3 linked regions of the Homo sapiens genome follow. The protein of the gene in region 3 purifies or fractionates together with the protein of the main gene of each other region. This does not show direct contact. Each region holds a gene or a part of one and is shown on either strand. Other genes may lie near its edges. The genes, in order: LZTFL1, USO1 and TSNAXIP1.

Region 1 (3,657 bases), on a different chromosome or scaffold from region 3:
ACACAAAACATACATCATTTTTTTCATCTCCTATGATGTTGAATCACCATTCTAAAACAGTTATTTTTAGAATATCAACATGAAATTACATGCATGCATTTATTTTTCATAGGATTTTATAAAGGCCCAAGACTTAAGTAACTTAGAAAACACTGTCGCTGCCTTAAAGAGTGAGTTTCAGAAGACACTTAATGACAAGACAGAAAACCAGAAGTCACTGGAGGAGAATCTGGCGACAGCCAAGCACGATCTACTCAGGGTTCAGGAGCAGCTGCACATGGCTGAAAAGGTCAGAAGACCATGTTTAAGGGATTTGTCTGTTAATGCATGATTAATGCACACAGTATAGAGGAATACATGTGGCTAAGATAAACGTTGGACAACTGCAAATTCAGATTATTTTTTCTCAAGGTATTAGCCAATATGTTCTAAAGATTAATCATTTCCGGGCACTGATATTCTTCCATCTTTGGTACTAAAATATCTGTGATAATAAGACATCTCCTCTCCCTCTATGGTGTAGTGAAATGCTCCTCTGTAGGTGGCTTGAATCCTGCCCTACATCCCACCATGTTGCTCTTCTGCTCCTTCTTCCCACAGCCTGCAGAGGGATGAGGGACTGTTTTTTTTAAGGACTTCTATACTTTTGTCATAATTTATATAAAATATGTAGAGAGCTAGATTCTTCACTTTGGGGATTAGACTCTTAAGAATATGGGAGTTGAGGCCGGGTGCAGTGGCTTGTGCCTGTAATCCCAGCACTTTGGGAGGCCAAGATGGCAGGATTGCTTGAGCCCAGGAGTTCAAGACCAGCCTGGCCAACATAGCAAGACCCCCATCTCTATAAAAAAATTAAAAATTTTTTCATATAAAAAATGGGAAAAAAGAATATGGGAGCTAAAATTTAACTAAATTAAAAATCATTTTGCTAAAATACACTACTATGGGACTTGGGAAAAAAGTGTGCTTATTTTACAGGAAAATTAGTTTAATATTTCAAATAGATTTATCATATCCAGGGCTTGAGTTATTTACCAACACTGTACTTGGGAAAATGTTACTATTTTATGGCTTCTCATTTGAAAGAATATATTTTTAAAGTTTGGATAGTCTTAGTTTTATATAAATGTGTCCTTTAAGGAAATTAGAAAATCATTAGCAAAATACTAGTAAAATTCAAGCAAAAAAAACTACATATTTTTATCGCATTTGTTATCTCTTTCCTTAACTATTTTTTTAGTAATGGGCTGACATTTTTTACTAAGCAGGAATTAGAAAAGAAATTTCAGCAAACAGCAGCTTATCGAAACATGAAAGAGATTCTTACCAAGAAGAATGACCAAATCAAAGATCTGAGGAAAAGACTGGCACAGTAAGCCACACTGATCCCGCCTTTGGATTTCTCTCTCTGGATTGATGTTTGTTCTCTGTTAAATCTAAGCTTGTTCCAGAGAGGTCAAGCCGGTGGTAGTTGCTGGATCATTTAGTCCAGAAGCCTTCATTTGAGGAAAGTGGAGGAGCTCTGGCCTGACCTTATCTATAATGCCCACCAGGGCTTCTTTTTAGGTTCATCTAGGCCTTTAGACTCACACAGGCCTACAGTAAGCTGCTCTTGGCAATGGATTCACTTAGCAGGATGTCAGACAGGAAACACAGCAAGCTCGCAGGGCAGCATTAGGTAGTTCTCTTCTCCTTGGTGGTATACTCTAAGCAGTCCAAGAACTGGTCTTACTGTTCCCCTAAATGACAGTTTAAGTTGGAGAGAATGAGATTCATGCAGATGGGTGTCATAGCCAGCTTGGCTTAGAAGTCCGTGTTCTACATAGGATTAGTATCTCTCTTAGCAGTCACATGATACCCAGTTAAGGGTATGTCCAGTTAAAAGAACTCATCGCACAGGGGGAAACCTAAAGTGGTGGCTCCCACCATGTATTTATAGTTCATTCATAGTCCTCCAGGTCCAGATGTGGTCATCAGATGTTTTGCCTGGAAACTGAGTTGACATTTTACCTTTATCAGAGTTCCAGGGGAGCAGAGCTAGAAAGGGAATTCAAGGTGAGATTTGTCCTTAGAGAAGTAGATTTGCTAGCCCTTTACTCATATAGTCGTATCAACTGTTCTTGTCAACATGATGATTGAGGTAATTATATGAAGTTATCACAGGTCTAAATGCCAAATATACAGACTTGGAGCCTTAGCAGTGATCTGGCCTATCCTCCTACCTGATGTAAAAATCCCCTCTGAGTCACCATCAAAACAAAGTTGAATGTGTCCAACTTCTACCGTAACAGTAATTTGAAGTGAGAAATATAGTGCCACTGCTTCAAGTAAACTTATTTGGTAATAACAACAACAAAAGGTATCCTGACATTGTGTTCTTAATTTATATCTCCAGATATGAACCTGAAGATTAAAACTGAAGATTTCCTCTGGAAGCTACCACATGCAAACATACAAGCAGTCTCACCTCAGGCATGTATTTTGAAAAGCATTTTGTCATATCCCCTCTCCTTATTTTTCTAATATTTAGACTTTGAATATTTAGAACTAGAGTTCCTATTTTCAGCTAGTTGAAAACAGAGAAAACCTAGTGATTCTGTCTGGTCATCCCACACACCTCTCTACTGAGTGCTCCAGAGTCTTAGCTCACATGCACTGAGAATTCTTTACAGCAAAGAAGAGATTTTTAGAGTGGGAAGAAGAGGCTTATCCTTCTGCATTAGTATAAAGAGTCTGTATTTTTAATAAATGTTAAATAAGCTAACAATGTTTGTACTTATGCATTCCCCATGGGTAAAAATAAATAATAGCATTGTTAAAGATAGTTATTACCAAAAAAAGAGAGTTATTACAAATAAATATGTCTCTTTATTTTTAAAAATGAAATCTTAATTCATTTACTCTATTTGATGATAAACTATAAATTCATTGAAAATGTGAATTCTATTATGGGTAGCCTTTTTACCAATTATAAGGAAAATTTACAGCAGTGAACATGAACATTCACTTAGCTTCCTCAGTCTCTCCATCTTAAAGATCATTTATCAGAGGAGGTTCAGCATTTTTTGCAGCATAACTTTTCATGAGTCTGTATTACTAATGGATAAGTCAAATCCATCCTGCACTTCTACAGTTTAGAAAGTATCTGGACTCAGAATAAATGTAATATTTATACTTGTTTCCAGAATGTTATTTTACATTTTATGTTCAATAAGAACACTTTTTAAAAGACGTATATTCAACATAAAATCAGCTATCAGACTTCAGATTAGACTTTATTTATGTGGGTCTATAATAATTGTATTTTCAAGAGGTTTTCACTATATTTGTATTGGCCTGGTTTTCTCAGACGATTTTGGACAAATCATTAGAAACTGGGCATCATATCCACAGTTATGTAAGGCAGTGATATACTATAAGGATAAACAAAGTCAAGTCCATAAAGCAATAATCCCTCAGAAGGAAAGTCCTTACTTTTCACATATTAATATTTAGTAATTTTTCCTGCTTCTAAAAGTGAGAGTATCACACCCTAAATGAACACTGTCTACTAAGAGACATCATTCCATTTCCACAAATGAAGATTTTATTCCAAGAAACGAGTTTACTGATTGGAGCATAGGGCTTGTTGTTATTTTTATTCAAGCTTTTAGTAAT
Region 2 (3,657 bases), on a different chromosome or scaffold from region 3:
CAGTATGAATAAAATTTGTTTCACTATTTCGTTCCACCAGGAAGTACAACAGGTAAAAGGGGTCATGGATTACTAATTTAGAAGTATTTATAGAGCATCAGTGGAGTGTATATACAATTTTAGATGTTTTAATTGATGATTTAGTCTGGCCAGGATATTTGAGTTACCAGAGCTTGGAACCCCTAGCTTCTATATTATCATTTATTATTTTGTAGTTTTTTCCATTTCTGCAAAATTAAATTTTTTTCATGGTGGCTTTCCATCTTTCTTGCTTTTTCTAACATCTTTTTTCCAATGGAAGGGCTCTTTTCTTTGTCTGAATTAGACCTGTTATTTAAATTCATCATCAGCGCCTCCCCTAATCTGTACTTTCCCCCAGCACGTTTCAGATGCTTTTTCCTTTCTGAGCTACCTTTACATTTTAACTACAGTGTGCATATATCTTATTCCTTCTAGACTCTTAAAGTGTCTTTAGGGCAGGGTTCATAATGTATTTTAATCTTTGTTTTTCCACAGTAGTAGATGCCCAGTAAATACTTGTGAAATGAATTAATTATAGTTTTATTTGAAAGAAATCACAGATCTGTAATTATAGCAACTTACGTTACTAGGTACTAAAACACTTTTTAAAGACTAGAAACTGAAGTTCTCAAATGAAGTTCATTGTGTCAAGCTTTTTACTTAAGGGATTTTTTCATATTTACTAAATGCTTTGACTGCTTTCTTGTTTTTTTTTTTCTTATTGAATTTAAGTATCTTTTAAATGTGTGAGAGTTATGTGATTGATTGTATAGTATCTAGCTTTTCATACTCTTAGTTAAGAGTAACTTTGGACTGATATTAAGATGTTCTTCAGGCCGGGGGCTCACGCCTATAATCCCAGCACTTTGGGAGGCCAAGGCAGATGGAGCACTTGAGGTCAGGAGTTTGAGACCAGCCTGGCCAAACTCCTTTCTGGAGTCAAGCACATTTTTATGGTGAAACCCTGTCTCTACTAAAAATACAAAAATTAGCTGGGCATGGTGGCACATGCCTATAATCTCAGCTACTCAGGAGGCTGAGGCAGGAGAATCGAGGCGGTGGTTGGCAGTGAGCAACCACTGAGTGGTTAAGATTGTGCCACTGCATTCCAGCCTGGGCGAGAGAGCGAGACTGTCTCAAAAAGAAAGATGTTCTTGAGAACCTGTCAAGTAGTAAATATTTTATCATAGGATAGTCAATTCTATAAAGTACTGGATATTTTAAATTCAGAATTTCATCCACATTAAACTTTTTCTGTTTTAGAGTCATGTACTTTTGTTTTTGTTTTTGTTTTGTTTTGTTTTGAGACAGAGTCTCGCTCTGTGGCCCAGGCTGGAGTGCAGTGGCGCAATCTTGGCTCACTGCAAGCTCCCCCTCCCGGGTTCACGCCATTCTTCTGCCTCAGCCTCCCAAGTAGCTGGGACTACAGGTGTCTGCCACCACACCGGCTAATTTTTGTATTTTTAGTGGAGATGGGGTTTCACCGTGTTAACCAGGATGGTCTCGATCTCCTGACTTCGTGATCCGCCTGCCTTGGCCTCCCAAAGTGCTGGAATTACAGGTGTGAGCCACGGCACCTGGCCCCAGAGTCGGGTACTTTTACATTTCATTTCTCTTTTTTACTTGACACTGATTTCTGGTGATTGAAGCCTCTTTAGCCTTGACACAGTTTGCTGGGTGCATATTATTATAGTACAAATCCTACTCATGCTTTTGTTTTTTAGTTTTCTCTTTTTCCCTAACCACTAGACCACCAGGGACTTCATGCTTTTGAATGTAAGCTTATGTGTGCTTAGTGTTATATCTGCCTTCTATCTAGCACCTTTTTTTTGGGTAGGGGGGTGGGGTACGAAGTCTCGCTCTGTCGCCCAGGCTGGAGTGCAGTGACGTAATCTCGGCTCACTGCAGCCTCCGCCTCCTGGGTTCAAGCAGTTCTCCTGGCTCAGTCTCCCGAGCAGCTGGGACTACAGGTGCACGCCACCACGCCAGGCTAATTTTTTTGTATTTTAGTAGAGACAGGGTTGCACTGTGATGCCCAGGCTGGTCTTGAACTCCTGAGCTCAGGCAGTCTGCCCGCCTCGGCCTCTCAAAGTGCTAGGATTATAGGCGTGAGCCACTGCGCCCAGCCCCCAACTTGTACCTTTTTTAAAGCTAGTTTCTTGAAAATTCCAAGCAAGTGTTAACTACATTTGATGATGAATCATAGAGGCATTTTCTGTTCTCAAGTTGGACCCCGAGACATGAAAGTTGCTAATGTCCAGAAAAAGCATACAGAATTAGAACATTGTTATGGGGTCTCTTTCCAGATCAAACTTTCATCAGCTGTCTCAGAAAGCAGAAGGGCTAACAATATAAACACAGCCATATTTTCTTTTAATAAAAATTGTTATTAAAGAGTGTGGACTTAAATTTAGACATAGTTTTCGTTTAGTCAAGCACATTTTATACCATGTTACTATAAATGTGTAGTCTGAAATTCCTATTTGGGTTGATGTATTCTACATTAATAACCAGGTCAATGTCATAACTGGAATGTGTTTTCTCTCTTGGCCTGTTTTGCAATAACAATGTCGGAGAGAACTGTAATAATGATTTGTGTTTTGGTCATTTCTATATCGAAGCACTCTTTTTAAGTAGGGCCTATTGAATACTACATGGCTTTTTGGAAGGTTAATTTTGTAGATTATATAGGGTTCATTTAAAAGTTAGAATCATTTAAATTATACATGCCGTAGCATTACCAAGGTATGCTTCAAAAAATTTGAATAGATGTCCATGAAAAAAATTTTGTCAGCAAAGAAGTGTGTGCAACGACCACTAACAAAGAAAAAACCTCTAGTATTTATGCAAGGTTTTGTAAGCAGGCACTGTGTTATAGTTTCAGATATTTTTAAAATGTAGATAAAAAGTAAGCTGTTTGCCAAATTTATCTGACCAGACCTTTTTTTTTCCTCTAGGGAACTTTGTTATCTATTATTTTGAGAAGCATACTTAGGGAAAAATTGTCCAAGAGGATATATAATTCTGATGCCTTTTTCTTTATTTTCCTTTATTTCATTAAAAACATTACTCTTGAATCTGATTAGGAAAGAATATTAGAATTCCTTATATACATTTGTTGATACCAAATACTGTTCCTCTTTCTTTTTATGTATTTACCTTTTATTATTAATATTACTGCTTTGTACTCTGCTTTTTGTCTGTTGTAGGTATAGTAAAGTTATGCTTATTATTTTTATACCTCAAGCAGAAGTGCCATAAACATTTTTTGTGTCAAAAGTTATTCACCATTAATTTGAAAACTTTTTTTTTTTTTTAAAGAGACAGGCTCACAATATGTTGCCCAGGCTGGTCTTGAACTCCTGGCCTCAAACAATCCTCCTGTCAGCTTCCCAAAGTGCTGGGATTACAGAAAAACTTTTGTGGTGTTAGATTTTGAGATGCTAGCATTTGTGATAGGTTATTTGGTAGACATGTTTCATTATGACCCCTTGCTTAAAACGATGTCCTTTTGAAAAGCATAGTTCATTTATGGGAAAGAGCATGGAGAATAAATGAAGCAGTATATTACTTGGCTGACTTAAGGTAACTATAATGGAAATGGATTCATTGGATTTGTCTACAAAGAGACTTGTG
Region 3 (2,497 bases):
CAGGGCATGGCTGTTCTGACTCTGGCCCAAGCCCCACTCCTGGGGCCTCCCCTACCAGACCAGGGAAGAAGTCTTTCTCCCGCAGCAGCCCCGAACCAATCTCTTCCAGGAGCACGTCCACCAGCTGGTCGCTGTTCTTGCCCTCAGCCAGCATCTGCCAGCGCTCTGGGCCCCCAGCCACCACATCTGCATGTGGGGAGAGGGAGCTGGAGTCTGGGCCCACATGTAAGCAGGACCTGGGGCCCTGCCGGCTGCCCTCACCTTTGCACTTGGTCCAGTCAGGCCGCGGCGTGGAAGTGCGCTGGATCTCCTGCAGCTCAGAGAAGAATTGGTCCCGTTCCTTCAGCGTGCTCATGTGCAGCTGCATGAGGATCTCATGCTCCTTGCGAACCTCCTCGTAGCTGGCTCTCAGGGTGTCCAGCTGTGGGCAAGGACATTGGCCCTGGCCCCCCACCTGTGAGACCCCGTCCTACCCTCCTGGCCCTGCCTGCCTGCCAGCACCTGCTCCTGAAGATCCTTGTTGGTCTTCTCCTGCATTTCAAAGTCCCTCCTGGGGACCACATCTCCAAAGTTGGCCTTCATGTTGTTGAGTTCCATCTGCGTGCGGGTCAGGTCTTGCCGGGTCATCTTAAGAGCCAGGGTTAACTTCACAGGGTCCTCCCCCCAGATGCCTGCCAGGGGAAGGGGCCCACCAGCCCGTGTCACCGTGGCTTTCTCAGGGGTTGCCTGAAGCCCTCTGCCCTTCCTGTTTGGGGTTCCCTGGTTCTTGCCCACAGCACTACCAGCCTAGGGTTTCAGGCTAAAGTCTAGAAGCCCAGGAAACTGAGTACCAGGCCTGTCCAGCCCACTGGGAGCCTAGGCTGCCTCAGCTACCAACTGTGTTCCTACAATTCTCAGTTCAACTCAGAAGATACACAGCCCTGCGGGAGGCAGGGACATCTCCCCTCTGAATGGTTATGGAATGAGCAGGTCTTAGGAATGCTGAATGAATGGGGCTTAGGGGTGAGACCAGAGTCTTCCAGCGTCTCAGAGAAGAGAGAAACCCGATTCCCAATTCAGGCTTACCTGGCGACTGGGCTAATGACATGTCCTCCCGCTGGTACCGCAGCTCATTCAGGTCTGCGATGAGGATCTTACAGGCATCTCGCTCACTGAGGTAGTGCAGGTACTCCTCAGCCAAGTTCTTCCTCAGTTTGGTCACCTGGCAAGAAGGTGGCTGTGTGGTCAGGGGCTGCCCCTGGACCCCTGTATGCAGCTGGTCACCCCAGGGAGTGGGCTGGGTTCTGGGGGGCCCCATCAGGGACTGTGAACAGGAAAGGTGAAAGAAGAAGGAGATTGGCCATTTCTGAGAATTCGGCAAGGTGCCAATGTTTCCCCCTGTGGGGAAAGTACTGAGCCTAGCAGCAGGGCAGAGGGTGGAGTTAGCAAGGCTCTGGGGGAAGGTGGTGGCTCAGTGTGTCACTCTCCGTAGAAAGGCAGAGCAGGGTAGGGGGTCACCCTTGTCGTGGAGTTGGCAGGAATTCGGGGACTTGGTCATCATCACACCACTTCCATTCACCTCGCTCTGCAATGAAATCTTCTCCTCATTCTTTTTGTCGATGAGTTTTAGCAAGTTCATCTTCTCTTTCTTGAGCAGGGAGATTTCATATTTCTCCTCAGCTCTCATGGCCAGGATCCTCTCATTGCAGTCCTCATTCACAGTGACAAGCTTGGCCTTCAGGGGCTCCAGAGCCCGAATCTTCTCCCTTTGGTGGGCTAAGCAGAGACAGGTGGGAGAGCTGCTTTGGGGCCATGGAGAACAAACAGCCAGAAGACACCCTAAGGTCATGGGTGAGTGGCTATGTCGCTTGCAAACCCCAAGAATCTCTGCATGCCTTGTTCAAAGCCATGGTCCCTGTTTCAGGCCTTCCTGCACTTGATTTTAAACAAAGGGCAGAGTTCAGATGAAGACCGGGGTCTCTCCTATGTCCTTTCCCCTACAGCCTTAAGTCCTGCAGCTGCACCATGCCCTGCACCTCCTGAGCCTGGCAGGGGAGCCTGCTGACTCCCAGAGGTGCTGACTCTCTCCTGGGGTTCACTCCATTTTCAACAGGGACTGCCCCCCTGTGCTTCTCAATGACAGGTGTTGTCAGGTGCTCTGGGGTGCCCTATCATGGAACAGTCTGTGCAGAATGGCTGAGGGGCCTTGGTGACCTCAAGGCCCAGTTGGTAGCTGCCCCAGCCCTGCTGTGGAGCACCAGAAGGTCGAATAGGATCTTCTCCACCCCTTCCAGGCTGGGACAAGGAGGGGAGCTGCATTCTTTTTTTTTTTTTTTTTTTGCGATGGAGTCTTGTTCTTTTGCCCAGGCTGGAGTGCGGTGGTGTGATCTCAACTCACTGCAACCTCCACCTCCTAGGTTCAAGCAATTCTCCTGCCTCAGTCTCCCAAGTAGCTGGGATTACAGGTGTGTGCCACCATGCGCAGCTAATTTTTTTGTGTTTTTACTAGAGACAGGGT

Evidence for each region.
Region 1: the proteins of TSNAXIP1 (region 3) and LZTFL1 purify together in Homo sapiens (affinity purification with mass spectrometry; one large-scale study listed by BioGRID and IntAct). This does not show direct contact.
Region 2: the proteins of TSNAXIP1 (region 3) and USO1 purify together in Homo sapiens (affinity purification with mass spectrometry; one large-scale study listed by BioGRID and IntAct). This does not show direct contact.

The regions. Positions count from the first base shown.
Region 1 is NC_000003.12:45,825,071-45,828,727, reverse strand, and holds part of LZTFL1 (leucine zipper transcription factor-like protein 1), read left to right. Parts: intron 1-112; coding exon 113-289; intron 290-1,268; coding exon 1,269-1,372; intron 1,373-2,395; coding exon 2,396-2,414; 3' UTR 2,415-3,657. UniProt on the Homo sapiens protein: Regulates ciliary localization of the BBSome complex. Together with the BBSome complex, controls SMO ciliary trafficking and contributes to the sonic hedgehog (SHH) pathway regulation. May play a role in neurite outgrowth. May have tumor suppressor function.
Region 2 is NC_000004.12:75,727,492-75,731,148, forward strand, and holds part of USO1 (general vesicular transport factor p115), read left to right. Parts: intron 1-3,657. UniProt on the Homo sapiens protein: General vesicular transport factor required for intercisternal transport in the Golgi stack; it is required for transcytotic fusion and/or subsequent binding of the vesicles to the target membrane.
Region 3 is NC_000016.10:67,823,841-67,826,337, reverse strand, and holds part of TSNAXIP1 (translin-associated factor X-interacting protein 1), read right to left. Parts: intron 1,756-2,497; coding exon 1,559-1,755; intron 1,202-1,558; coding exon 1,066-1,201; intron 672-1,065; coding exon 502-671; exon of another isoform or gene 443-501; coding exon of another isoform or gene 422-442; coding exon 262-421; coding exon of another isoform or gene 187-261; coding exon 56-186; intron 1-55. UniProt on the Homo sapiens protein: Possible role in spermatogenesis.